2 linked regions of the Homo sapiens genome follow. The protein of the gene in region 1 purifies or fractionates together with the protein of each later gene. This does not show direct contact. Each region holds a gene or a part of one and is shown on either strand. Other genes may lie near its edges.

Region 1 (3,064 bases):
ATGTAATGATTTGGTAGAGTTGGCAGTAGGCTTGAGTCATGGAGATCACAGCAGCATGAAGTTAGTAGAAGAAGCAGTACAGCTGCAATATCAGAATGCTTGTGTGCAACAAGGCAACTGTACAAAACCATTTATGTTTGACATTTCAAGAATTTTCACTTGCTGTCTACCAGGCTTACCTGAAACTTCTTCTTGTGTTTGTCCAGGATATATCACTGTTGTGTCAGTATCTAATAATCCTGTGATCAAGGAATTGCAGAATCAGCCTGTGCGAATAGTTCTCATTGAGGGTGACCTCACAGAGAATTACCGCCACCTGGGATTTAATAAGTCTGCAAATATTAAAACAGTATTAGATAGCATGCGGCTTCAAGAAGACAGCTCAGAAGAACTGTGGGCAAATCACGTGTTACAGGTGTTAATCCAGTTCAAGGTGAACCTTGTCCTGGTACAAGGAAATGTGTCCGAACGCTTAATTGAAAAATGTATAAACAGTAAGCGGTTGGTAATCGGCTCAGTGAATGGCAGTGTGATGCAGGCTTTTGCAGAGGCTGCAGGAGCAGTACAGGTGGCCTACATTACACAAGTGAATGAAGATTGTGTGGGCGACGGGGTCTGCGTGACCTTCTGGAGAAGCAGCCCTTTGGATGTTGTAGATAGGAACAACAGAATCGCAATCTTATTAAAAACAGAAGGAATTAATTTGGTTACGGCCGTGCTCACTAACCCAGTTACTGCACAGATGCAAATCAAAGAAGATAGGTTCTGGACATGTGCCTATCGTTTGTATTATGCTCTAAAAGAGGAAAAGGTCTTCCTTGGAGGTGGTGCAGTTGAATTTTTGTGTCTTAGCTGTCTTCATATTCTTGCAGAGCAATCTCTGAAAAAAGAAAACCATGCCTGCTCAGGGTGGCTGCATAATACTTCCTCTTGGCTGGCTTCATCTCTGGCAATATACAGACCAACTGTGCTTAAATTCCTGGCAAATGGATGGCAGAAATACCTTTCAACTCTCCTATATAACACTGCCAATTACTCATCAGAATTTGAAGCCAGCACATACATTCAACATCATCTGCAAAATGCCACAGACTCTGGCTCTCCTTCATCTTACATCTTGAATGAATATAGTAAACTAAATAGTAGAATTTTTAATTCAGACATTTCAAATAAACTGGAGCAGATTCCGAGAGTTTATGACGTTGTTACACCAAAGATTGAGGCGTGGCGCCGAGCATTGGATTTAGTATTGTTAGTACTTCAGACAGACAGTGAAATAATTACTGGACATGGACACACACAGATAAATTCACAGGAATTAACGGGCTTTCTATTTTTGTAGTGTTACTGGCTAAGTCTTTGGAAAATAATTTTTCATAATATGTCATGCTAATAATAAATATATTGATAGCCAAGTCATGGTGCCTAAAATGCCAGCTATTGCCAAGAAGAAAATAGTTGATGTCTGTCAATAACTGTGCATGGTCTGAGATTTTACCCTACTTATAAGCTAACAAGTTAGCCTGTTACTGTTTCGTGGGATGCTACAGAATGCATAAGACACCTGGGTCAGAAACAAAGGACTTATCGCTCACAGCAAAAGCTGTAGCCAGAGCTTCATGTTGGTTTTATTCAGTTCCTCATTTTTCTAGTTCCCACAGGAGGAACACAAAGGGCCCATGATGAAAGCCTGCACACAGTGGGTTATGTTGTAAGCTTGGGTTATTAACTGCTTTTATAGTAAGCAAAAAAATCCTGGTCTTTGTCCAAAGGGAGTTATTACCCCATACTTGAAGATAGCTTAGTGTAAACACAAGCCTAGGACATGGACTAGGTAAAGACAAAGTCCTTGCATTCTTGACATACCCAGTAAGTATGCAGGGACACTCAGAGCCCATAGTGGATAGTCTCTTCCAACAGTCTGCTCCTCAGCCTGAGATGTTCTTGGCCAAACTTGAATTTTCACATGAGTATGCCACTCTATCAGCTACTCTGATTAACCTGACAGTCGGGTTGTTTAGTCAGTACCAAATTTGTTCATTTGGTCTCATATAGCAATTAATGCAGGCTATTATCAGACACAGCAGCAGGATGAAGCCAACCTGCAGTATTAACCTCAGTCCTGTCCCCCAAGGTCTTGACTCAATCAACTCTAAGTTCCAAGGGAGGACCAATAGGTCTTTTTATTAGGCAGCCAGAATGTAGTGAAGGACAATTTATTATACTTTATGACCCAATAAAGGGAGCTTTGACTGACGTACTGATATGTGGTGTTATTATCAATAATTATGGGTGCAATAGCTGGGCCAAAAAACAAACCTGTTCCCTATGGAGAGCCCTTCTATGGCTTATTTTCCCCACATACAAGTACATAAGCCCAAAGGGTCCAGGTTACTCTAGTTCAGAAGTATTGTCAAATCTGATTTAAATCATCATATGTGGATTTCAGTCACATAAGTAGTGTCACTGAGTAGTTGCAGCCTCGGTTGCTATACATGGTATAATCCAAGGCCACTCTGACAAATTTAGAGAAGCATAAGTTCAATCAGAATGAAACAAGGTTGTGCTGGTCCCTGTGTTTCTACATGTTCACATATGGGAGCCACCCATGATGGCATCATGTACTGCCTCCTATACTGGTAGAGTCTTAGTAAGGTGTTGAGCCTCCTTTTTGCTGGTGAGGCCAAAGAGACAGCATTTATTTGTTTCATTGCCAAAGGAATTGAGTGCTGTAAATCTCTCCAGTCTCAAAAAACGACTGGTCAAACAGGGCCCTAAATTTTGTCTGGGTTTACCAGCCATTCCTACTGGTAGAGATATGAAAACACCACAGTCAAAGCTGTTGGAAGTGGCTTCTGATTTCAACCACTGGAACATCATCTACAGTTGACCTTTGAACAACAGTGGACAGGGATGACAACGCCCTGCACAATCAAAAATCTGCATATAACATTTTTGGTTTTTTTGGAGACAGACTCTCCCTCTGTTGCCCAGGCTGGAGGGCAGTGGCGTGATCTTGGCTTACTGCAACCTCACCTTCTGGGTTCAAGCAATTCTCCTGCCT
Region 2 (3,828 bases), on another chromosome or scaffold:
AGCCCTGCTTCTTAGCAACTTTCCACACTTCCTGCCTCTGATCCCACTTCCTCTGTAAAGATGCTATTTGGCTCAGCAGCAACCCAAGGGAGTGGGAATAAGGCTTGGTGTGTTGAGAACTGCTCCTGCCTCCTTTTGACAGCCAAGGCTGGCAAGGTTGTTTGGAAATCTGACAAAGAGCAAGTCTACTTTCTACAAGCAAAAAATCCCAACCACTTCACAGTCACTCCATTAAAGTAAAACTAAATCTCTCTGAAAAATAATATGCTTTGAAACCCTCTGTTACATTTATAAAAAGAAAAGGAAAAACAAAAAATTTCAAAGTTAAAAAAGAAACCTTTAAAAATATTGTAGCAATAGCCTTCTTCGTAACAAATATAAAACAGCTTAAGACACTTGGTGACTTTCTTAGTTCATCTGTGGGGGAATGGATACACAATGAGGTTTTACTACTAAAGTTAGCTATTTGGTAAAAACTCTAGGAAGAGTTCCATCAAGAAAATGGTTATTTTGGAAAGACAAGTTATGATTATTTCCAAAATGTCAAAAGAAATAAGAATGTAAACACCATATACTTAAAATGTTAATACAATAATATTAACTCAGTCAAATAAATAAAAGAAAGTGGCACCAAATTTATGGCAATTTTTCAAAACAAAAATGTAGCTTAAATATATTTTAAAATAAATAATTGGTTCAAATACGGACGACCATTCTCAGCACAAACTAACAACATTCAAAATAAAGTGCTATGAGAAAAAGTAGCCCCACAATCTTCAACTTATTCACATATGAACAGAGATACTATCTGGATCTTTAGGTCTGAAATATTCACCACGAGTGAAAGCTAGAGGCCAGGCTTAGGGCCATCTTTTGTCATTTTTCTTTTTTCTTCCAGCGTGTGCTTAAATATTTTCTTCAGGGTGTTGTAAACTGTTGGTCCATTTTCAGAATCAAAATTAACCTGGTGACAAAGAAATTTATATTCAGGACACTGTAACAAGAATTTGAACTAGTTTCTATTTTGAGAGAAGGAGGGGGTGGAGAAAAAAAACAGACTTACAAACAAAACTCTATATAAAATACACATAATAAATTTCACACATTTTATTTGAAAGACTATTAGAACTGCCAACCATGTCAATATCAAACTTATGAATGAAAACCCCAAAATTAAATCTAGTGCCTGGATATTTAGTCTAATTATATACACCCAGTCATGAAGCAAGTCAACAGTGGGTGTGAAGTGAATTTTTTGAGACTAATCATTGATGGTATAAGAGAAAAGTTTCCCATATTAAAACAGCACATCAGCTGTATACGTCCTGCTGAGAGGCCCTACGGCCACTCTGGACAGGGTCAGAGTGACCTGAATAGAAGCCCAGCTCCCCACCTGCCAGCTACATGTCCTCATCTCATACCCAACCTCTCTGGACCTTGATCTCCTCCTTTGTAAAACAGAGATAATGATACCCACCTTCATAGGATAGCGTATCTATGAGTCTAACATGTTTGGCACATATATACAAACCTCAACTGGCTGGGTGTGGTGGCTCATGCCTGTAATCCCAGCACTTTAGGAGGCCGAGGTGGGAGAGTTGCTTGAGCCCAGGAGGTTGAGACCAGCCTGGGCAACATGGCAAAACCTCATCTCTACAAAAAATTAAAAATTTAGCCAGGCATGGTGGCACATGCCTGTAGTCCCAGCTACTTGGGAGGCTGAGGTGGGAGGATTGCCGGAGCCCAGGAGGCAGAGGATGCAGTGAGCTGAGATTGTGCCACTGCACTCCAGACTGGGTGACAGAGTGAGACCTTGTCTCAAAAAACAAACAAACAAACAAACAAACAAACAAACCCCACCTTGATAAAGTAAATTTCCTTTCCCCTTGATGGGAGCGCACTATTTACACATATTTGCATTTTTCACCCAAGTTTACCATACTCTGGGTTAGCAGTGATGGCAGGACAGAGAACCAGAGCAAGTACCCACCCTCAACCCCATTCCCAGAGTAATGTGTAACTCCCTGGGAAAGAATCAGGGTCACACAATCACTGCTTCTCTGCTTCTGGAATTTCTCCCTCTCTGATAAATTTTGACAAATGAAAGGTTGTTCCCTCTGTCAACAACTGTAAAGGATCTGAGACCTTAACCTGTTAGCTTGCCAGTGTTATGGATACTGGTAGAAGATACGAGATTCCTGGGTCAGAGACAGACAACTTTTATTTCTCACAGCTGCATGTGCTTCATGTTCACATGGGTTCTCCTTGTCTCTCAAGTCTCATGGAGGCAATGCAGAAGGGCCTAGGTGGAGGCTGCACAAGCACGGGGTTTGCCTCATAGCTGAGGAGCCCCAAGCTTAGGAAACTCCAATGTTTCACAAGGGGGCTGCAAGCAAATCTGCCAACCTTTGCCCTGAAGGGAAACATTTTTATTATCCTGGAAGTCAGAACGTGTGCCTTCTGCTCTCCAGGCAGAGCTCTCCAGACATTAGTGAAGAGTTGATCCTCAAAGAGAGTGGTCAGGGCATCTGCTCATCAGACTATGAAGAGACATGAGAGACCCAAGGAAAACTGTCTCCTAACATTTTCTATAGACAGATTTTGAACAACTGTTATCTCTAACTTTTCATTCGTATCCCCTTAAAAGGCCAAAAGAAGTTGTAAAGAATTCCTACTGCTTTCAGAGAGACCAATCGTAAGGATTTTTTTCAGTTAAGCTCAGGAATTTAATTTTATCTATAACTATATTATCTATCCCCTTTGCAAAAAACTCCTTATTAACATTAATAATGGTGTGAATTGTTTACTTTTTTTTTTTTGAGATGGAGTCTTGCTCTGTCGCCCAGGCTGGAGTGCAGTGGTGCAATCTTGGCTCACTGCAAGCTCCGCCTCCCGGGTTCACACCATTCTCCTGCCTCAGCCTCCCGAGTAGCTGGGACTACAGGCGCCTGCCACCATACCCAGTTAATTTTTTTGTATTTCTTTTTAGTAGAGATGGGGTTTCACCATGTTATCCAGGATGGTCTTGATCTCCTGACCTCGTGATCTGCCCACCTTGGCCTCCCAAAGTGCTTGGATTACAGGCTTGAGCCACCATGCCTGGCCACTTTTTTTTTTTTTTTTTTGAGACAGAGTCTCGCTCTGTTGCCAGGCCGGAGTGCAGTGGCGCGATTTCGGCTCACTGCAACCTCCACCTCCCGGGTTCAAGCCATTCTTCCACCTCAGCCTCCTGAGTAGCTGGGACTGCAGGCGCACACCACCATGCCCAGCTAAATTTTTGTACTTTAGTAGAGATGGGGTTTCACCATGTTGGCCAGGATGGTCTCAATCTCCTGATCTCATGATCCACCCATCTCAGCCTCCCAAAGTGCTGGGATCACAGGCGTAAGCCACCACTCCCAGCTCTGTTTACTTTCTTAAACACCAAACCACAACCTTCTTCACATGGTGGGTAGCCTCTCAGTCTATGAAAGTGTAAATACAGATGTAAAGGACCACGCGGTTTGGATTTGAGACTACTGACTCTGGAAACAGTGGAGAACAGATTGAAAAGATGTCAGTGGTTAGTGCCATAGAATCCAGATGAGGAACAAGGAAGGCCTGAAGTAAGAACATCACTCCGGAAAGAGTGGAGGGGAAGGAGACTGGACAAATATTAAAAAGGAAGAATCTTTATAACTTGTTAATGAGTATAAATAATAACTTCTTATCATTAATGTTACCACAGATGTTGTCATTCAAAAGCTGGGTTCTTTGTTTAATGACACTTTCATATCAATGAGAGGTAACAAACAAATTATAGATACTTTCATATCAATGAGAAGTAAT

What was found.
Region 2: the proteins of BBS12 (region 1) and PTPDC1 purify together in Homo sapiens (affinity purification with mass spectrometry; one large-scale study listed by BioGRID and IntAct). This does not show direct contact.

The regions. Positions count from the first base shown.
Region 1 is NC_000004.12:122,742,684-122,745,747, forward strand, and holds the end of BBS12 (chaperonin-containing T-complex member BBS12), read left to right. Parts: coding exon 1-1,342; 3' UTR 1,343-2,256; downstream 2,257-3,064. UniProt on the Homo sapiens protein: Component of the chaperonin-containing T-complex (TRiC), a molecular chaperone complex that assists the folding of proteins upon ATP hydrolysis.
Region 2 is NC_000009.12:94,104,964-94,108,791, reverse strand, and holds part of PTPDC1 (protein tyrosine phosphatase domain-containing protein 1), read right to left. Parts: intron 965-3,828; coding exon 848-964; 3' UTR 1-847. UniProt on the Homo sapiens protein: May play roles in cilia formation and/or maintenance.